Regions from separate parts of the Homo sapiens genome. Here all the other regions are reported to be linked to region 1. The links are microRNA targets in miRTarBase. Many come from high-throughput screens and were not tested one by one. Region 1 holds a microRNA gene; each other region holds the end of a gene's coding sequence.
What was found. The annotated mature microRNA hsa-miR-6797-3p reads UGCAUGACCCUUCCCUCCCCAC and lies in region 1 at 2,207-2,228, opposite strand. An mRNA with a match to its seed (bases 2 to 7 or 8) in the 3' UTR can be bound and repressed. Matches are read on the target gene's strand: a 7mer-m8 pairs with bases 2 to 8, a 7mer-A1 pairs with bases 2 to 7 and ends in A, and an 8mer does both.

Region 2: the mRNA of UBQLN1 is a reported target of hsa-miR-6797-3p. Seed matches in the 3' UTR shown: 7mer-A1 at 2,874-2,880.
Region 3: miRTarBase lists TNPO1 as a target of hsa-miR-6797-3p. The part of its 3' UTR that is shown has no 7-base or 8-base seed match.
Region 4: miRTarBase lists PGAP4 as a target of hsa-miR-6797-3p. Seed matches in the 3' UTR shown: 7mer-A1 at 4,509-4,515.

The regions. Positions count from the first base shown.
Region 1 is chr19:41,866,484-41,871,902 of GRCh38, reverse strand. It overlaps MIR6797 (microRNA 6797), which reads right to left and starts at 2,276; the gene lies at 2,205-2,276. RPS19 (ribosomal protein S19) reads right to left here. Exons shown (of 6, transcript NM_001022.4): 4 at 2,689-2,872; 5 at 2,150-2,204; 6 at 1-552. The coding sequence ends at 526. RefSeq lists enhancers at 1-117, 358-427, 1,870-2,428 and a silencer at 5,401-5,419.
Region 2 is chr9:83,657,921-83,663,339 of GRCh38, forward strand. UBQLN1 (ubiquilin 1) reads right to left here. Exons shown (of 11, transcript NM_013438.5): 11 at 2,048-4,019. The coding sequence ends at 3,867. Among named protein-coding and RNA genes, the nearest start is that of IDNK, 37 kb to the left of the region's middle.
Region 3 is chr5:72,903,260-72,908,678 of GRCh38, forward strand. It overlaps TNPO1 (transportin 1), which reads left to right. Exons shown (of 25, transcript NM_002270.4): 23 at 450-524; 24 at 2,044-2,186. The coding sequence ends at 2,151. Among named protein-coding and RNA genes, the nearest start is that of MIR4804, 27 kb to the left of the region's middle.
Region 4 is chr9:101,471,133-101,476,551 of GRCh38, forward strand. PGAP4 (post-GPI attachment to proteins GalNAc transferase 4) reads right to left here. Exons shown (of 2, transcript NM_032342.3): 2 at 2,038-5,419. The coding sequence ends at 4,749. All of the region lies in intron 1 of TMEM246-AS1 (TMEM246 antisense RNA 1), which reads left to right. Among named protein-coding and RNA genes, the nearest start is that of TMEM246-AS1, 5.4 kb to the left of the region's middle.

The sequences.
Region 1 (5,419 bases):
AGGGAAGAGCATGAACCCTGGGCCCTCTTGCTTTACTCCAGCGGAAGCCACCTCTGCAGCCCAGGCCCAGCTGAGGTCACAGCTCACAGCCATCCTTTCGTTTCTCACTTTCTGACAATTGCAAAGACAGGATGTGGGGGAGTGAGCCACAAGGGCCCCTGGGTCCTTCCTCCAAACCCAGATGGGAACTGTTTGACCTGGGAAGGCCCGACTGGCTGCCGGGTAAACAGCCACCCAATCACCCTGGGCCCCCTCACCCAAGGGAAGGGAGGAAGCGCCTCTTCCTCATGCCCCTGAAGAACAATCAAGAGACCCAAACCAGACCAGGCACAGTGGCTCACACTTGTAATCCCAGCACTTTGGGAGGCTGAGGCAGGAGAATCATTTGAACCCAGAAGGCGGAGATTGCAGTGAGCTGAGATGGCGCCACTGCACTCCAGCCTGGGCGACAGAGCAAGAGACTCAAAAAAGAGACCCAGACCAGGATTACGAATGAGGCAATTTATTAACCCAGCATGGTTTGTTCTAATGCTTCTTGTTGGCAGCTGCCACCTGTGGGAAAAGATGGAAGAATAAAAGTTAGTCAAGGGGGTCTCTGCTGGGGCACTTTGTAACAGCTACCTAACTACCCACCACAGGTGGGCACCCCGATTTGTGGTTTCAAATGCATCTATCTCATCTAATTCTCACTGTGGGTATTCCCCCATTTCACAGACGTGGAAACTGAGTCTCAAGGGAGTGGCCAGGCACAGTGGCTCACACCTTTAATCCCAGCACTCTGGAAGGCCGAGGCAGGTGGATCACCTGAGGTCAAGAGTTCGAGACCAGCCTGACCAATATGGTGAAACCCTGTCTCTACTAAAAATATAAAAACTAGCCAGGTGTGGTGGTGTGTGCCTGTAGTCCCAGCTACTCGGGAAGCTGAGATAGGAGAATTGCTTGAACCCAGGTGGCAGAGGTTGCAGTGAGCTGACATTGCACCACTGCACTCCAGCCTGGGCGACAGAGCAAGACTCTGTCTCAAAAAAAAAAAAAAAAAAAAAAAAAAAAAAAGGAAGGGAGTGGCGGAGTGGAGTCCAAATTCCGCCCACTGCCATGTGAGAAGGCCAACATCCAACCACCAGCAATGATGTGTGCGCCAAGCCCCACTCTGCCTGGAAGAGCTTTCTCCTTCCAGACCACCCCCAACTCCTAGAGGGCTGACACTTTCCATTCTTTTGTGACACTTGACTGACTAAATGCTCCAAGGCTCCTAGGAGGCCTGAGTCAGTGATACAGAATTGAGCTCATGCCAGGCCCTGGGTGCTCCTGCTGTACTATAGCTCACTGACTCCTCACTACCATGCTTGAGGTGGCCAAGGGTAGATTTTGGCCACAGGGAGGCCAAGACAGGAGACTGTGGCACCAGGGGTGTGGCCACTCTGCCCCAGGGTGTTGGCCAGCCAGGATCTGAATGGAGACCTGGGTTCTGAACCAGCCCCCCTCCCTTATCTCCACCTCTCCCAAGCAGCCCATGTGATGCTCAGTACGCATGAGGACTAAGGGGAAACATCGCAGGCTGACCTGGGGAGGGGGAGTCATCTACGGGTACAGCTATGTGCTCTGTGGATAGATGCCCAGTGGCACCTGGGCTGGAGTTCCCTCCAATTTTTTTTTTTTTGAGATGGAGTTTCACTCTTGTTGCCCAGGCTGGGGTGCAATGGCATGATCTTGGCTCACCGCAGCCTCCACCTCCCGGGTTCAAGTGATTTTTGTGCCTCAGCCTCCCCAGTAGCTGAGATTACAGGAATGTGCCACCACACCCGGCTAATTTTGTATTTTTAGTAGAGACAGGGTTTCTCCATGTTGGTCAGAATGGTCTTGAACTCCTGACCTCAGATAATTCGCCTGCCTCGGCATCCCAAAGTGCTGGGATTACAGGGGTGAGACACCACAGCCAGCCTGCCTCCAAATTTCTAAGCAGCACCAACAGGAAAAGTCAGACAGGACTGTCCTTTCTCCTGTCTCTGGGCAGCCCTCCTCTGACCCCACCAGCACCCTGGGCTGTGCCCTCCAGAGAAGGAAATAAGTCTACCTGACAAAGTATGGGCTTTGGAAATGCTTGGGCAGCGACTAAGGGACCCAGCCCCACCCCAAACGCAGGCCTTACCTGTCCGGCGATTCTGTCCAGATCTCTTTGTCCCTGAGGTGTCAGTTTGCGGCCGCTGTGGGGAGGGAAGGGTCATGCAGGCCCCAGTGAGCACAGGTCCTGTTCTCAGCCCCTTCCCTCCTGGCTGTGAGCCAGGCTTCTCAAAAAGCCACCTGCCGCCAGCCAAGTCCCACTGAGGGCCCTAGTCAGGTGCATTCTAACGAGCTGGGGGCAGTAGTGGGAGCCCCCCTGGGAGCTGACGGGGTGTTGTTTGTGCAAGCATTTAGATCAAAAGCCCCGAAAAATCAATTGGGAAAAGTTAACGAGCAGGCTAATGAAAGCAGATAGTCGCTAAATTACCCTCCTGGAGCCTGGGCTAGTCAGCCAGAGAGGTCGGGGTGAGGCCCCGTGCTGTTTGCTTTTCTGCAGAATCCCCTCCTGCCTGCCTCTGATAGGAGGGGCCTGAGGGGCTGGGCAGACTATGCAGGACCATTCGTTGGGGAATTGATGACCGGGCCTCAAGGCTACTCCATCAATGCAGCCCCCTCTACCCTGCTTACCCATCTTGGTCCTTTTCCACCATTTTCAGCCCCTCCAGGGCTTGGAGGACCCGGCGGGCCACACTCTTGGAGCCTCGGCTGAAGTGGCTGGGCATGACGCCGTTTCTCTGACGTCCCCCATAGATCTTGGTCATGGAGCCAACCCCAGCGCCACCCCGGAGGTACAGGTGCCGCGCTGTGGAAGCTGGGGGTAGTGTGAGAGGGAGATTTAAGGGTCTTGATCAAGGTCTCAGGTAAACAATTCCTTGTGTGTAAACAGCTAATTCTCACTGTTTTATAAGAAGGGAAACTGAAAACACACACTAACACCCAGAAACTGACAGCCCCCTCTCCTCACCCACCCCCCCGGCTAGCTCTTCCTTGACAAACAGCCCTGCACCCTGGGTGGGCACTCCCACCATCTCCAGGGCCAACTTCTTTAGTGGTTACTATCCCAGCAGCACTGCTGTTGAATTGAACCTGAGGTTATGTAGGGGTGGAGCCTAGCTGTGACCATCTCCATGGGCCCCAGAGAAGCAGGAGTGAAGGGACCTATTGCCACTCTCCGGGCCACCTCAGTCTGGAGAGCTCAGGATAACAAGGGCAGGGCAGACACTCTGTGCAGTGGGTGCCCCCTGCTTGGAATGTGTACCAGCCCCTCTGCAGACACAGGGAAGGCTGGCTTGGGCAAGTCCCTGGTCCACCCCAGCCAGCCTCCTTGCCTGCAAAAAAAGCTCCGTAAAATCCAGTCGACACACCAGCCTCCCCAGAAACGCTTGCACGCTTCTATTAACTGGAGCACACATCTGCCAGGCCCTGTGCCAAATGCTTTTCGATCTCTCCACCCTTCTTCACCTGAGGGCCGGGTTACTCTGAGGACTCAACAGGTGTGTCAAGTGCTACTCTCCTTTAAAGAGTGAAACTGAGGTGCCAGAGGGTACTCACTGGCTCCGTGTCACACAGCTCTGGAGGAACTGCCCTGTCCTGCCACTGTGATGGCACCGGGGCCCACATGCAGGAAGCACCCAGATTTCAGCCATCACATGGTCCTGCCTAGCTCTGGAGCTCAGAGCAGAGTCTGGTTTGTTCCTGGGACCCAGAGATCAGCAAGTTGGTCTGAGTCTGCTCTAGTGATTTCTTTCCTCTAGTTCTAAAGATCAAGTGGGGGAATTGGGGGTTCTTCCATAACTGCCAAGTGCCAGGCAGTAGTCTGTGTGGGGTGGGCTGCTTCTGCCCAGAAACAGTTCTTACACACCGCTTGTTCCCAGCCCACTCCTGCCCTGAGATCAGGTCCAGATACAGCCAGCCCTTCATATCCACAGACTCAACCAAGGGTGGATCAAAAATATTTAGGGGAAAAAAACTACAATTCAAAACAGTGTAACAATTATTTACACCGTATTAGTGCTTTTTCTTTTTTCTTAAAACACAAAAAAAGGGCCTCATTCTGTCACCCAGGCTGGGGTGCTGTGGTGTGATCATAGCTCACTGCAGCCTCGAACTCCTGGGCTTAAGCAATCCTCTTGCCTCAGCCTCCTAAGTAGCTGGGACTATAAGTATGTGCCATGTCTGGCCTGTATTAATCTATAAGTAATCTACAGATGATTTAAAATATATGGGATCAGGCCGGGCGCAGTGGCTCACGCCTGTAATCCCACCACTTTGGGAGGCTGAGGCGGGAGAATCACCTGAGGTCAGGAGTTTGAGACCAGCCTGGCCAACATGGTGAAACCCCATCTCTACTGAAATTACAAGAAAATTAGCCAGGTGTGGTGGCACACCCGCTGTAACCCCAGCTACCTGGGAGGCTGAGGCAGGGCAGGAGAATCACTTGAACCTGGGAGGCAGAGGTTGCAGTTAGCCAAGATCATGCCACTGCACTCCAGACTGGGTGACAGAGTGAGACTCTGTCTCAAAAGTAAAACATCTACATAGGATATATGCAAATATTATACTTTTTTTTTTTTTTGGAGACAGGGCATCATTCTGTCACCCAGGCTGGAGTGCAGTGGTAACAGCTCACTGCAGCTTTGACCTCCTGAATAGTTGGGACTACAGGTGCAAGCCACCACGCCCAGATAATTTCTGAAGAGACCCGGTTTTGCCATGTTGCTCTGGCTGAACTCCTGGAGTGAAGTGAACCACCCATCTTGGCCTCCCAAAGTGCTGGGATTACAGGTGTGTGCCACTGTGCTGGCCCCGATATTTTTTTTTTCTGAGATGGAGTCTCTCGCTCTGTCGCCCAGGCTGGAGTGCAGTGGCGCAATCTCGGTTCACTGCAAGCTCTGCCTTCCGGGTTCACTCCATTCTCCTGCCTCAGCCTCCAGAGTAGCTGGGACTACAGGGGCCCGCCACCACGCCTGGCTAATTTTTTTGTATTTTTAGTAGAGACGGGGTTTCACCGTGTTAGCGAGGATGGTCTCAATCTCCTGACCTCGTAATCCACCTGCCTTGGCCTCCCAAAGTGCTGGGATTACAGGGTTGAGCCACCGCACCCGGCCCCTGGCCCCGATATTACACCATTTTATAGTAAGGGTGAGCATCTGTGGACTTGGGTATTGGGGTTCATCCTGGAACCAATCCTCAGCTGATACTATACAACCATGCTCTGCTGGGGGCCAAGAGCACAGCCCTGCTGTTGGCTCACTACCTCTGGCATCTGCTCACTTTAAAATCCCCACCTCACTCCAGGCCCTACCCCCTACGCCACTGCCTGGTAATAAGTGCCCATAACCAGGACCAATAGACAGAC
Region 2 (5,419 bases), not on the chromosome of region 1:
TCACGTCTCATTCCCTCTTGAGCTAAATAATTACCTCTTGAAGCAAATGACTATGTGGGCTCTGGAATGACACCAAGTAGCCATTAAGATGTCATATAGTAGACATCATAACTTTTACCCTATGTTCAACAGCGTACAGCCAATGGCTAATCAATATTATCTCTGGAAACCAATGAGAATACCTGTCAAAACTTTTATCAGCCCACTCCTTGTTCCCCTTTGCCTTTAAAAACCTGCTTGTACCAAACAGAGTACTCCCCAAGGCAACCTGAAATGGGTCCCTGGCAGCTGTTCTCACTTTGGCTCAAGTAAACTCTTTCGAAATTATATTTTGTGCCTCAGCTTCTTCCCTTTAGGTTGACATACACTCAAGGACACTATTTCAGGGCCTTTTAATTAGTTGTCCTTCTTCCTGGAAAAGTTGTTCACCCCTCCAGATACTCAAGTCTCTGTTCAAATGTCACCTCCTCAATGAGCTGAGGCTTTCTCTGACAACCTTATATAAAATAAGAACGCCACCTTCCTGACCTGGTCTCCCCACTATGCAGCATTTTTCACCAAAGCACTGATTACCTGGCAGGCAATCTGTATGTTTTCCTATCTCCCTACATTCTACTATGTAAACCCCATGTGGACACAATCTTGTTTTATTTGCTGCTATACTCTGAGCAACTGGAAAAGAACCTGGCACTCAGTAGATGTTCAATAATTTGACTTTCTGACATAATAGTTGCCTATGAGAAAAGATACAGAGAAGTTGAAGAGGAACAACTGATGTTACTTAGGTAATTGCCAAGACAATTTTAGAGCAGAAAAATAAAAAACAAAACAAAATGCTACAAGGTGAATGGGGGGAGCAAAATGCAGCAATTGACAGTAAAGACTAAGTATGAACAGTTAAGAGTTTCCCAAACACTGGATCAGCAAAGTTTAGGACGCCTTCAGAACTGAGCCCAGAAAGAATGGTAGGGTTTATAGGAGCCAAAGTAGATAAATACCATGTGCGACACCAGAGAAGGGTAGATACACGAAGTATAGGAAGGGTGTTCATTGTATACAGCATCACCTTAAAGAATAGTTAAAAGATGGTCTAGTGAGACTGGAAAAAGCTGATAAAACTTTAAATAGACTTCTTTCATGCAAGACTTCCTGTTAATTGTAATATAATATTAATCTCTATGAGAAGAAGTACAATATGCAGTATTTCCCTGCATTAATCACAGAGTCATTTTTTTTTGTTAATCATGTGTATGTCATTGCACACACGGCTTAGCTTCACTTTTGTCACTAGCATATTGTTATCCATTGTTATATTTTGTTGTGATATATGCCTATTAAATTAACATAGTAAGAATAAAAGACTCTTTTCATTATTATATTTAAACCAAGTCTGAAACTCAAGATTCTAAATACACACAGAGGCCAGGTGTCATTTATCTGATTTTTCAATATTTGCTAGACTTTGTTTAGGATATCGCAAATATTATAACTGGGAAATAAAATCCTGAAATGCTATTTTCACTACCCCATTCTTTATTCAATTTGTACTAAATATTATCACTCAATATGAGAACAATTTAAGCCTACAGTATTTTAAACATCCTTTAAGTGCTGATAAGAATTTTAAGTATTTTGAACCCCTTAAGATGTAGATATTTATCTTTAGACTTAGACCTAAATAAACATATTAAAAACAAAAACCATACCACTGCAGTAGCTTAAAGGTACTTCAGAGCTTATCGCCCAGTCCAGCACACCTATAAGCCTCACCACCACATGTATAATAAAGAAACCATGACGCCTCAATGTCACATAACTAGTCAAGTACCAAGATCAAAAGTGGAGCTCAAGTCACCTACCTTCCCAGTGTGCTATCTTTTTATCACACCACAAAAGACTGTGACGTTTTAATTGGAAAACCTGAAAAATAAAGAATGTAAAATGTGACAAAATCTGGGGTAAATCAACTCCAATAGCCTTTAAAACACATGGTTAGCAAAAGTTAAAGACTTTTTTTCTTTCTACAAAAGAGGCAAGACAAATCAAGTGTAAAAGCTAGAGATTTATTGTTATTTTATGATTAATAAATTGTCAAATTAGTTATGACACTATCCCACACTGAATACCACCATTTGCCAGTACAGAAGTTTTTAAACCAAACTGAGGCATAAAGCAGAAAGAGCAAAGACACATGAATACCCTTCTTAACAATCTCTTCTACTTATGCCTCCACCGTAACCTTTGTACTTGTTTTCCTCCTGGGGAAAGTGTCAGAACAGTGCAAGGACTGGTGGGTAACCTGGCCTCTTAACCTTTTTAATAGCAAGCAACATACAGAAGTAATGCAATCAACTTGTATTTCCCTTGATTTTATTGGTCTGAATTCATTTTAGGTTACTTTAACATTTTAATTTCCTGTAACTGTACATGAGAGAATATAATCACCTAAGAGAATACTGAACCAGAGTCAGCCAAATGTATCACTGACCCTCAATTATGTTTTAATTGGTCCTAAAGGAATGTACCACCCCAACAGTTTGGGAGTTAGGCAAACAGAATTCTTTGGGGGAGGGAAGAAAAAGGCTATAAAACAGCCAAATGTACTCAACATCATTAAAACGGCTCTTTGTTTTTCACCCCTGAATGATACTTCTTTACTACACTATATGCACAGAAATCCTAACAGAATCTTGGTTGCCAGTATTATTTAAGCTGGCCCCATCCAGGACAGATTCCGCTGCCCCACCCCCCCACCCCGTCCCCCTTTCTCTGAGGCTCTGAAAAGCACAATATTTAACTATTTCTTAATAGAACTACCAAAACACTTCAGAAACAATTGGCTCACAACTCATTTTAAATTTGTGTATTGCCTGTGCATGAGAAAACAGATAAACCCAAAAGATAGTTCTATTTTTTTATGGCGATTAAAAATAACTGAAACATCAAGACACTTTTTCAGTGAAAGCAACATTTCAATTACAAATTTTAATGCCTGTTAAACTACCTATGGGAGAAGCTGAGAAGTCCTAGGCAAATGCACTTTGGGGTATACTACAGTGTTCCTTCAGTCTGCACAAAGATTAAGGTAATTTACAGTCAATCTGTGAATGAATGTTGAGACAATGTTACATTATGTGTCTGTACAATTAATTGTCCTTAAAGAGATAACCAGAATCAGCTTTTCTACTGTATTTTCAACAAACCTGACTAACCGGCACTTTTGCTGGGAGATGTTTGTCAAAGATGCTGTAAGATTCTATACAATTAGGAAATACTCAGCTTTAAGAGTATTTTCTTATCTTCACTTTTTTAGTTACAGGTGTTTTGCTCAGAGAGCCTATTGCAGTATGTTTCCAGAAATGCAGTCCCAAATGTGCATACTCTATATTGTATACAAATAAAACAAAATTATCAGTAGTATAAATCTTACAGCATTGTTTGCAAAAATGCATGCCAAAGTCACAATAAGCAATACTGTACCACAAATTATAGAGTGCAAATGATTTGCTTCTTTTTAATGCTTTTATTCTACATAAATTACTACCATAGGCTAATGTTTAAAAAGCAAATAAACTGGACAGATGCAGGACAAAATCTGGTCACCCAACTATAAAAGGTGATGTTTTTAAAAAATTACAATAAATGCAGAAGTGATGCATGCAGTAGCCTTAATTCCCACTGTTCCAGAAAAGAAAAATACAGAAAAACCCACACATCTTACTGTACTCCACCTTAAAATGCATCATATTGGGTTTGTTTATAACAGCACAGAATTCCAAGAGTCAAAATGAAATAAAGCAGGTATTTTAAAGTTTAAGAGCCGTTATCAAAAATAAATTACATTTTTTCAAGATACAGAAATGCTGCTATGATGGCTGGGAGCCCAGTAACCTTTCAATAGCTGCATTGATATCACCTCCTGTTGCTATTAGAGCTTGCAAGTTTGCTTCACGGTTCAAAAATCCCATTGCACTGAGTTGTTCCAGTTGTTGCTGAAATCTGACTTCTGGATTCTGTAGCTATTAAAGAAAAAAAAAATTAATCCAACTCTAAAGGAAGCCAGTCCCTGCCACACATGACTTTTAAAATTTTTTAATTGCTTTTTTATAACATATGCTGATCTACTGAGCTTTAAAAACACTGCCCACCTCTTGAAACTTATCCAACATATTTAAAAGTCCATTAGCAGTTTATTTTAAATAGTCTAGTTTGTACCTAAATAATCATGTCAAATAGATCACGACTCTACTTTAGGGGAGGGGGAGAAAAGCTTAATAAACATCAACCATTATTTTAGAGGATCACGTACATGCAGAAAAACCTGTATGTGTGTGTGTATATACATATACATATACACACACACACACACACACACACACACACACACACACACAGATAGTTCAGAATTAGATGATTTGTGTAGCTACTGACCAATTGAGTAACTATAAAAGCTGGTATCCTCATGTATAAAATTCTAAAGCTTCAATGATTCTTCGAATGAATGTGAGTTTAATTTTTGCACTGGACAGTCAATTCTTAGAAAAGAGCTTCAGTTTCAGGCCCAAAATTATACTCTTAATTCTGACATTTCAGCAGCATCAAATCTTTTCTTCAGAAATGAAGTTAAAAAAAAAAATCTCCATATAAATGACCAATCAATCCTAGGCCTACCTGATAATTTGGAGGCTTGTAAGTTAACTTATGTCACAATTAATTCTAATACTCCAAATCCTTCTTTCTTATTTATTCCATGAATATTTACTGAGTACCTACCAAGAGCCAGAAACTATGCTACGCTAGCTTATCAGGAATACAGATATGTATGAGACAGAACCCTACCCTATTTATTATATTTAGTAAGGCTTGAAAACAGAAAGCAGGCCAGGCTCACGCCTGTAATCCCAGCACTTTGGGAGGCCAAGGCGGGTGAGATCGCTTGAGCTCAGGAGTTTGAGACCAACCTGGGCAACACGGTTGAAACCCCAGCTCTACAAAAAATACAAAAATTAGCCAGGTGTGGTGGTCTGCGCCTGTAATCCCAGCTACTCCAGAGGCTAAGGTGGGAGGATTGCTGCAGCCCAGGAGGTGCAGGTCGCAGTGAGCTGTGATTGCATCCAGCCTGGGCACTTTGTCAAAAGGGAAAGGGAAAGAAAAAAAAAAAAGGGAAAGGCAAAGAGGGGAAAGAGGAAAAAGGGGAAAGGGGGAAGGGGAAGAGGAAAGGGAAAAGGGAAAGGGGAAGAGGAAGGAGGAAAAGGAAAGGGGAAAGGAGAAAGGGAAAGAAAAAAGAAACCCAGAAAAGAAAACAGAAAGCACCTAACAGACCTTGAGACATTAAGAAGTTTGGGGACAACCTAATAAAACAGGTTTAAACTGGCGATCATCTTTATATAATGGCACATTATTAGTAAAACCAATGTAT
Region 3 (5,419 bases), not on the chromosome of region 1:
ATTACTAATTTCTCTATTTCAAATCAAGGTCATTTAATATATATTTAGCTAGCTTTAATTTCTTTCTAGGCCAGTCAAAACTGTAAGATCATTGGTTTTATGTTTTTCTTTAATCCGGTAAATGAAAGAGTATTTTTATGGGTGTCGATTTGGTGCTTTCAGTTCATTTCTGATGCTGAACATTTATTGCACAGGGGGTTATTTTGTTGTGTGATGCAGGACATTAAAGTCCAGTATAAACTGAATGAGTTGAGGTTCCTTGACTGTGGGCTAATAGGGACAGCCATTAAGGTAATCTCTTCTAATTCCTTATGATCATAGTTAATTTTTAAATGTTTCCTTTTTTAAGCTAGATTCTATTGTGACATAAACTCTGAGGTTTACATATATCTTTTGCTGAGTTTGACAAATACAATATCAACCTAAGATGTATTTCTTGCTTGTTACAGGATTTTATATTTTTTTGTGATGCCGTTGCATCATGGATTAACCCAAAAGATGATCTCAGAGACATGTTCTGTAAGGTAACTAATAAGTCTTTATAATGCATCATCTTGAGACTGTTAATATCCTAGTGGAAAACTTTAAATTATGTTTACATTTTTTGTGAAAGTTAGGCTCTTCAAGTCAGTATTGATAGTTTACATATATAACCTTTATTCTTGGTAACAAAGTTGGCTTGATCTTTTCTTAAAATACAGCAGTGACTCTTATCTGTAGAGGATGCACTTTGAAAGTATTTTCCCAAGTGTACCACTAGTTTAGGTGGTCCCATTATTCCATTTAAGGAAAATAGTATATGTTTTTCAAGATGGAAATGGAGACTTGGAGTATAATCTGAAAAAGAGTAAATCTAAATGGCTGCCACAGGAGTAAGCCCATGTCATTATTTGCTTTGTTAATACCCTCTTTTGATTAACTCGTCAGTACTCAACCACAGTAAAAAATAAAATGCAGTTACACATTTGAATCACCCAAGATTAAAGTTAGTGAACTATAGTTTGTCGTGAACTCAAAGCTTGTGTATTTGCAGTTTGAAAAAATACGACATAAAAATTGTATTGCTTGGATGACTTCTCTACTTTATCTTTTCGTTAGTATGGTATCAGAGATTGCTTAGAGTATATCTGTTACTGGAACACTTGCCAAAGTCTAAACTTCTCAAAGCAGAGTTTAAGCATATGCTATGAGGTACTTTTAGGCAAGGCACGTGTATTAGTCCATATTCACGCTGCTGATAAAGATATGCCCAAGGGCCGGGCTCAGTGGCTCACACTTGTAATCCCAGCACTTTGGGAGGCCGAGGCAGGTGGATCACCTGAGGTCAGGAGTTCAAGACCAGCCTGGCCAACATGGTGAAACGCCATCTCTACTAAAAATACAAAAAATTAGCTAGGGGTGGTGGCGGATGCCTGTAATCCCAGCTACTCAGGAGGCTGAGGCAGGAGAATCGCTTGAACCCAGGAAGTGGAGGTTGCAGTGAGCCAAGATCATGCCGTTGCACTCCAGCATGAGCAATAAGAGTGAAACTCTGTCCCCGCCACACACACAAAAAGATATGCCCAAGACTGGGTAATTTACAAAAGAAAGAGGTTTAATTCGACTCACAGTTCCATGTGGTTGGGGAGGCCTCACTGTCATGGTGGAAGGTGAAAGACAAGTCTTAAATCGCAGCAGGCAAGAAAGAGAATGAGAATCAAGTGAAACGGGTTTCCCCTTATCAAACCGTCAGATCTCATGAGACTTATTCACTACCACCAGAAGAGTATAGGAAAAACTACCCCTATGATTCAGTTATCTCCCACTGGGTCCCTCCCACAACACGTGGGAATTATGGGAGTACAATTCAAGATGAGATTTGGGTGGGGACACAGAGCCAGACCATATTAGCAGGGAATGGTGTAGAATCCTACGAAGTTTGAGAATTGCTACTTTAAAATGGATAAAATTTATAAAAAAATCAGCTGTGTTGGATTTCAGAAGCTATGCTGATCTGAATTTTTCTCTTGTTATTGATAAATTAATGGTTTTTCACTCTTACAGATCCTTCATGGATTTAAAAATCAAGTTGGCGATGAAAATTGGAGGCGTTTCTCTGACCAGTTTCCTCTTCCCTTAAAAGAGCGTCTTGCAGCTTTTTATGGTGTTTAATCTAATACACTTAAGCTGCAGTCCCAAAATTAGGGGTAAGTTATAAGAAGTTTGGAAATTTTCAGGATGAAGAAAATTTTGTTAGGGCTGTCATTTCAAACTACTAAATAGAATAAAAAGCTATTTGTTTTCTATAGAGGTTGAATAAAACATAGCCTCATATCATTCTATCTTGGGCTTTAAATTTAAAATTACTTAAGTGGGCCAGGTGTGGTGGCTCATGTCTGTAATCCCAGCACTTGGGGAGGCCAAGGTGGGCAGGTCATTTGAGGTCAGGAGTTTGAAACCAGCCTGGCCAACATGGTGAAAACCCATCTCTACTAAAAATACAAAAATTAGCCACGTGTGGTGGGACGTGCTTTTGTAGTCCCTGCTACTCAGGAGGCTGAGGTGGGAATATTGTTTGAACCTGGGAGATGGGGGTTGCAGTGAGCCAAGATCTTGCCAGTGCACTCCAGCCTAGGGGACAGAGCAAGACTCCATCTCAAATAAATAGAAAATAAAATTACTCAAGTGAAGGCTAAAGAAATTTTCTTAATAGAACCAACAAGCCCAGAAAAACGATTAGCTCCAGTTTGAATCGTAGGTATAAAGAAATCCACGTTGGTACACTGGTTGGATTTCTCAACATTGCTTCAACTATTCCTTTTTTCTTTCTTTTTTCCTGCAAGAAGACATCGGCACTCATAGTGATGGGGTAAAATTGATTTCATTTTGGAGCATGAATTTATAGTCTCTGCTGTAACAAGGACTTTTCATTTCACGTGCTTTGAAAGAAAACTCAGTTGGGTTTTGGCCCACTGTTTTTGTTTTTCACTGTATGTTTCACTGAGTACCTACCATGTGCCCATCACTTTTTTTTTTCTTTTTTTTTTTTTTTTTTTTTTTTTTTTTTTTTTTTTTGAGACAGAGACTCTTTCGCCCAGGCTGGAGTGCAGTGGCGCAATCTGAGTTCACTGTAATCTCCGCCTCTTGGGTTCAAGCAATTCTCCTGCCCGAGCCTCCCAAGTAGCTGGCATTACAGGCACATGCCACCATGCCTGGCTAATTTTTGTATTTTTAGTAGAGATGGGGTTTCACCATGTTGGCCGGGCTGGTCTCGAACTCCTGACCTTGTGATGCACCCACCTCGGCCTCCCAAAGTGCTGGGATTTACAGGCGTAAGCCACTGAGCCCAGTGCCTAGGACTATATTTTAAAATAAGCAATGAAAGATTCTGTTTTAATTTGGGATGGACTATATTCATTTGGACTCTTGCTCCTTGAGCTCTTCTGTACTTAAATGGGACTAGCAGTTCTCATCTCTGAGCTTCGGTTTTGTCATTGAGTTATGTTGAGGATTAAATACTATACTGTATGTGATGCCAGAACTTAGTATGTTGCCTGGCACACTAAGTTGACTCAGTAAAGGTTAGGAACTGGGCCAGTACAATAAATATCAGGGTTTTGACATTCATCTTTAGATTTTCAACATGAATTAAGACATATCTGACTGGAAGCCAGAAGATGTGCTGAATGAGCATGTACAGAAGATGTACACCAAGTTGAATTACACTTTAGATTGAATTGGAGGAGTTTTTTTGGCTTGCTTGCTTGCTTGTTTACTCCAAGCTAAAATTTAAATCTGGAAAGATTTCACCATCCAAGCTGTCTAACCTAGAAGGTAGTAGAAATGGACTCAAAGCTTCCAGAATGTGTCAGAGCCCTTCATATGTGTTGTCCTACTTCAGTCTTGAGTCCTCAAGAGCTGTTTTCCAAAATGGCTTTGGCATTTTGGAAAAGTGCTGGATTCACCTTATGTTAAATTATGAGAATGCAAAAGATGAGAATGACTTGTAGCTTCAAAGCTTCAATGAGCTACTAACAAGTCTTGAGCACTTTCAGATTTATTACCTCTGTGGTCTCATCACCAATCATGAATTAACTGTTCTAAGACAAGGTATGAAATAGTTCTCGGTTTTGTAATTAGAGCTAAAAGTAGATCAGTATCTTTTATTCCTGCCTTTTTGTACTCCTCTTCCTTTTCTTCAGAGGCAGGAGAAAAGGGATTGCTTATATTTCTACACAGATGGATTAACTGCCCTCTGTGAATTCACATGAACGTTCATAAATGGCCAAAACTTGGCATGATTGGGTAGTAGAGTTCTGTTTGTAAAAGGACCACTATCAGGTAACAGTTTAAATCTCCCAGTAATCTTACCTTATTTCTTAATATCCTTTTTATCATTAAAACTGTTTAGCATAGAAAAAAGTTCCTACCAGAAAAACCAAGTGACTGGAAGATAGTGGAAATGACCAAGTGAAATAGGATCAGAATGGGAACTAATTAGGAACATCAAGAAGGCAAGTGTAGGCAGGGTGTGATGGCCCACATCTATAATCCTAGCATTTTGGGAGGCTGAGGTGGGAGCATTGCTTGAGCCCAGGAGTTTGAGACCTGCCTGGGCAACATGATGAGATCTCCATCTCTATGAAAAAAATTAAAAAGAAAAAAATGAGCTGGGCATGGTGGTATGTACCTATGGTCCCAGCTACTCAGGAGACTGGGCAGGAGGATTGCTTGAGCCCAGGAGGTTGGGGCTTCAGTGAGCCATATTCACACCACTGCGTTCCAGCCTGGGTGACAGAGCAAGGTGCTATCTCCAAAATAAATAAATAAATGTTAAATTTGCTTTTTTCTCTCTCTCTTTTTTTATGTAGAATTTGTTTGTTGATACTTACTGAATGTAGTGACCCTGCTGTGGTAATGAACACTTCTAGTGCCTTCTAGGCTTAAAATACCAGACAACCCCAAATAACAAATGCTCTTTTGTGTTTTGATAGGTTGGATTTCTGTTTGCTTAATATTGGGAATACTGGGGGAAAAAAAGATGGTGTTTTCATTCTAAGGATTGTCCTAAAGAAAGTGCTACTTTATTTTTAAGAAAGTAAGGCCACTTGTTATATAAGAAATAACAAGTTCCCATTGGGTCCCATTTTGCAAAAGGGGATAAAGAATTAGACTGATAGCATCATACGAGGCATATTTCACTATACAAAGTGTTGTACACCTGTCTATACAACTCTCCTACCCAGCTTGACCTCACTTTTCATACCTGATGCAGCAAACAATTCAGTGCCATAGGAGAAGGAAGCAGCATGGTTATAAGTGACTAACACGATATTAGGCAATTTGTCCAAATTTCTCATTTTCTTTATAGGTAAAGATAGCATTCTTATTTGATTAATTTTTTGTTCCACTGGCTTTGAAAGACAAACGATTGTTAAAG
Region 4 (5,419 bases), not on the chromosome of region 1:
CACTCTTGAGTTACAGCACCACATGATGTAAAATTGGGTAATTTTAAGCCACTGGATATTTTTATCCCAACTATAATAGAATTTGCTGAAAAATGCTTATTAACTGAAACTGTTTTCTAGGTTGGATACTATTTGGAAAATCTTTGGCACTATGTCAAAGATGGTTGGAAATTTACTAAAGCTAGCAGACCAAAAAACAAAACAAAACAAAACAAAAAGACTTAATTTATTAGGACTGCAGTGGTGATGTGTTGTCACTTCAGGACACCCCACTACCTGAATTGCAGCAGTGTTGCGAATCATCACTCTGCAGTGAATGGGAATTTTTGGTTTAGAGTTTAACAGATTTTCCTGGTCTTTCTCCTAGCGACTGACACAGAAATACGAAAGAATAAAATGATTCCAAAAAAAAAAAAAACACCTACATTAACCATTTGGGGGTAAAAACGATGAAAATGTAAAGGCAAATGATGAATTTATCAAAAAGAATGAAGGAACAGATAGCATATGTATGTAGGAACACAGTAGCTTTAAAATATCAGAAAGATGAAGGACAGAAATGCCAAGTGAAGCAGAGGGTTTCTACATTTGTCTTCTGCTTTTGCATGTCCCACATTCCCTTATGTAATAGATCTTTAATGGATTCCCTACTGTCACAGAACCTTTATAAGACCAGCCTATGGAGAATGCAAAGGAACTAAATAATGGACAGTTAACGTTCTGGAAAAGCAATTTATTATCTTGCTAGGAGCTGGCTTCTCATTGCATTTAGAATAAACTTTAAACAGCTATATCATCTTCCAGGCCTGATATGATCTGGCCCCTGCAAACTTACCTTCACATCTTCCACTCCCATCCTCATTCTTCAGGCTCTAGCTACACTGGCTTTCTTTCATCCTTGGACTTTCTACACTGGTTCTTTCTGCAAGGCTTTGCACTGCCATGCTCTCTCTCTGGAATGCTTTTCCTTTGACTAAATTTTTCCATGTAATTCAGGTCTTAGTTCAATTTTAATCTCCCCTAAGAGATTTCCCATCCTATCTAAAGCAGTCTATGCCCTTCCCTATCCCTAGGTCCCGCAATCACATTACCTAGTTAGATTTCCTTCAAACCTCTTGAAATTCCCTTATTTATTCTTTTGAGTTTTTTTCCACTTCACCTTCCCCATAGAACATGAGCTCCTCAGTGTCAGGGGTCTTCTGTTTCGTTCACTGCTATATCCCCAACACCTAGAATAGAACATGACACACAGTGAGCCATGAATGAATGAGAAAGAGTACAGGACTCACAGTGGAACTGCCTATGAACAAAAGGAATACTGGACAAAAAGAAATGGACTAGGGAAGAAAATCAGGAAGAAGAGGAACAAAGAATGGGGTCTAGGGACTGAGAATTGGTTATAGTGTACAATTTTAGCCCCTATAAAAAAGTTTTTTACATGCATTCCAAGCAGAGGGAATGGCAAGTGCTAAGAGGAAGTCTTTCCATCACTACACACAGCTGTTTTTTACTTTGTTGTTGTTAGTGGTTTTGTTTTCAGTGTGTGTGTTGGGAGTGGGGGGAGGATGGGTGTGAGGGATCTCTGCGTGTTTCTCTCAGGGGAAGGCTGGGTTTTCTCTTTCAGCCTACAGGTGTTGCTGCATGTTCTTGGGGTGGCCAATGGAGCACTAGACAGGAATACCACCCATGGCAGCTCTGCAACTTATTCTAAGACTTTTAGGGCAAGAGGCAGGAAAGAGTGAAGGAATGATCACCACATTGTACCAGGGGTATACCAGTGAGAGGTAAGATGATCTGGGTGGTAGCAGTGACCCCCACTTTTTTTACCCAGAAAAAGATGGATAAATGCTCTGACATTGCTGTGACCCAGGGATCTGTGGCCATGGTTGCTTGTGCAGGCAGCAGCCAATACTTCTGAATGGCTCCCTTGGGACTACAAAACTGTGTGTGGGCGCAGGGAGCCCATACTATTTGCCACATCAGAAAAATCCATTCATGAAAAGGAAAGACAGAGAATGATAAAAGTCTTCTCAGAAAGCCTTAGCAAAATGGGTGCTTTTATTTTCACAGACATGTCTATGCAATACACTCAGTCACAAGAGAGAGCTTCTTAAGCCTGACCATAATTTAAACTCTGAAAGGTGAGTGAGCCTGTTAAGAGACCTCCACCCTTCTAGTAACCTATATCCCTTGATATGGGAAGGATATCTTAGTTCTCCCTAGCCCCTTGCTTAGGATTAAGTGAGAGACTTCAGCTTTGGTGTAAAGCTGTCAGCTGCCCTAATCAAGGACAATACACAAAAATTAGACTCCTTATAAGAATAAGGGATTAAATGGAGGAAGATCTAGAAGTGGGTGGGAACAAAAGAGCAGAACTGAGCCTGCATCTGCAGAAAATGTCCAAAGACAACTGGCAGAGTTCACTCCATGGGGAAAAGGCATGTTAGTGTGTAGGTAGAGAAACTGGACAAGGAAGGATGGCCTTAGCCTTCCATAATGGAGAAGTCGGGCAGGGGATGTCTGCATGCAATAGACAACTGAATTAGAAAGAGCAGAAATGTAAACCAGCAGTGCTTCCCTATCTTGGGCCTGGCTAGCTTAAAGGGGCTCTACTGTCATTGGTCAAAAAACTTTCATGAGGAGATCCAATCACTAATGCAACAAACTCTAATGAGTTCTAAGTTGGAGAGAGCTCAGTTCTAAAGCTTGGGGGTAGACAGGTCACTGAGAGAGGAGGAATGAAGGAGTGGGATCTGAACATTGTAATAAGTCATCTAGTAGCTCTGATCACTTTGGACATTGCTGGGGGATACATAACAGCTCACTATAACATTACAACACATACTTATATCTGTTTGCTCCTCCAAACTAACATGACAATGTGTTTCTGCCATCTTAGCTTACAGAGACATGATCTAGTTCAGCTTATACTCAGATTTTACAAAAGAGACTTTGACCACATAGATATTCATAAAATTAATGTGGTTAAGAAAAAAGTGCAGGGGCTTGAAGTCAGAAGAGCTCCGTTCCCATTTTGGCTATGCTGCTGTTCAGGTTTGTGACCTGCAGAGCAGTTTAGCATCTCTGGGTCTCAATTTGTTCATCTGTAGAGCGTGGGTGATCAACCTTTATGTAATCCTTCTGTGTTGAGTGGGTCTCAAGATGGAAGCTCACTATGGGAATTTAAAAGCAAACTGTGGCATCGAAACAAACTGGACAATTGCTTGAACTCTAATATCATCATCCATCCTCATAAAGTAACTTGTTGGTCACTAGTCTGACAGTACTGTTAAAAGACATTTATTTGTAACTTTTGAGAAAATAATTTTCAGACTCTGATCTTAGAATAAGCTCATGAGGAGTCTCATTTCCAAGCTGGAGATCATTTCCAGTTTGAATGAACAATTCTTCTTTTTGGCTTGGGTGAACGTGGGGATAGGTGAAAGCTGAGCTGCACATCCTTCAGAGGTCACAATGAAAAGTCAGTCTTTATTCTAGCAGGGCTTGGTCATCTGGAATAGCTGGTACATAGGTGGCAGCTCCATGCCCTATCTCATACTTTAAACAACATCACCAATATCTTTTTCCGAAATAAGCTTGAGTTGTATATGTTTATTATAGGAGAGAAAAGTTTGCCAAGCGTCTTCTATGGACTAAGCACTTGCTAGGTGTTTTACATATATTCTGCCATTTAATCCTCAAGGCAACTTTAACATGTAAGTATTACTGTCCTCATTTTACAGGTGAAGAAATTGAGACCCAGAGTGATTATATGACCTGCCCAAGGTGGTCACGTCGTTAGGCCATGGCAGAGATCTGAAATAAAAGGTCAGGTCTTCTGACTTCAGTCCATGATTTTTTTTTTTTTTTTTCTATAACATCATGCTACCTAGAAGAAAAAGAAATGAAGGTAAGCAGTCAGCCAGGAAAGTCAGGAAAAATGATATGCTACTTGTAAAGAGCTCCCCTATATTGTATCATTCTGAAATGTCCAATTTTCAAAGAGTCAGAGTAGTACAGAAATGTTCAATGTTAAATCACTACTCAACATAAGCAATCTGACTTTGATGGTTCACAAGCTCTTCCAGATCTTGTCGTGCCTTAAAGTTCTCACTAACAATATCAATTATCAGTGCACTACAGATATATAGGAAAAGAAAATCCCAGGTAACAGAAAAGCCAGATCACCTGCCTCCAAGATGCCGGGCACTGCACGGCTTTTATCAGTTTTTATTACATCAGGTCAAGGAAACAAATGGAATCTATCCACATGGTCCTGCCTCGTTGGGCATATATTCTAAACATACATCCATTTTCATACCCAATGAGAAAGAACTCAATTCCAAAGGATCTCACCTTTCACAAAATTCTACCCTTAAGATCCTAAAACAGTCATATCACTGTGCACAAAATTTTTGGCAGTCACAAGCTCTAACACAAAGCAGAGCTTAAAAACAAATGGAGAATATAATCAGTGTTCAAATGCACCCTCACTGGGTGGGTCAGACTGCATGAGGCAGTGTGGCTGTGTGGAGGGAGAGGTCCGGACCTGTGGCAAACTGCTGCTCCTGCCAGGAGGCTACCAAAGCCAAGGCTCTTAACATATTGAGGTTCCTCAGCTGCCCCAGTGCCTATATCTCTAACAACAGTAAACAGTGAAATACCTGCAGGCAACCATGTCTAAATAAAGAGATAAATATTTGAATCTTCAAGAAGTGGCCAACTTCAGAAAGGCATCTCTTGGCACCCTAGAGGAGACTGGGATGAAAGTTGTACCGGAGACTGGAGAAGAGCCCGATGTGTTTCACGAGGTTCGGCTCCACTACATAGGCCCTCTCTCCCTTGGCCCTCAACAGCGAGTACAGTGCCATGTCCTTGCCAAAGCCCTTGTGGCAGTACACTTGGGACAGGTAGGTGAGGGTCCGGCGGGCCGCAGGTGCCGGGAAGAGCATGGCTGGGGTGCAACACTGAGAGGCAGGAACCACACTGTACAGGGAAGGACTCAGCCGCCGCAGTTCCAGGAAATAGTGCCGACCCACCAGCTCCACCAGACCCATGCTATACAGGGAGAAGAAGAGCATTACAGGCCAGCTAAACCCTGGGCGGCTGGCAAACCTCATGTATATCCAGGTTAGTAAGGGCCCCAGCAACATGCCTACACCAACCCATTCCAGGATCCGCATGGGCTCTGGATTGATGTAGTGCTGGAGCCTCTCGGGGTGATACAGCTTGAGATAAAGGGCATCTCTGAGATGTGGCTCAGAGAAGCGAGCCCGCAGAAGGTGCTCCAAGACTGGGAAGATCTGCTCTTCTGGTACAGCATCGTCTTCTACCATCAGGACGTAGTCTGGGTTGTAGGTCTGCAGGGATGACTCCAGGCAATAGACATAGTCCTGCTTCTCTTTCTCAAACGAGTTGG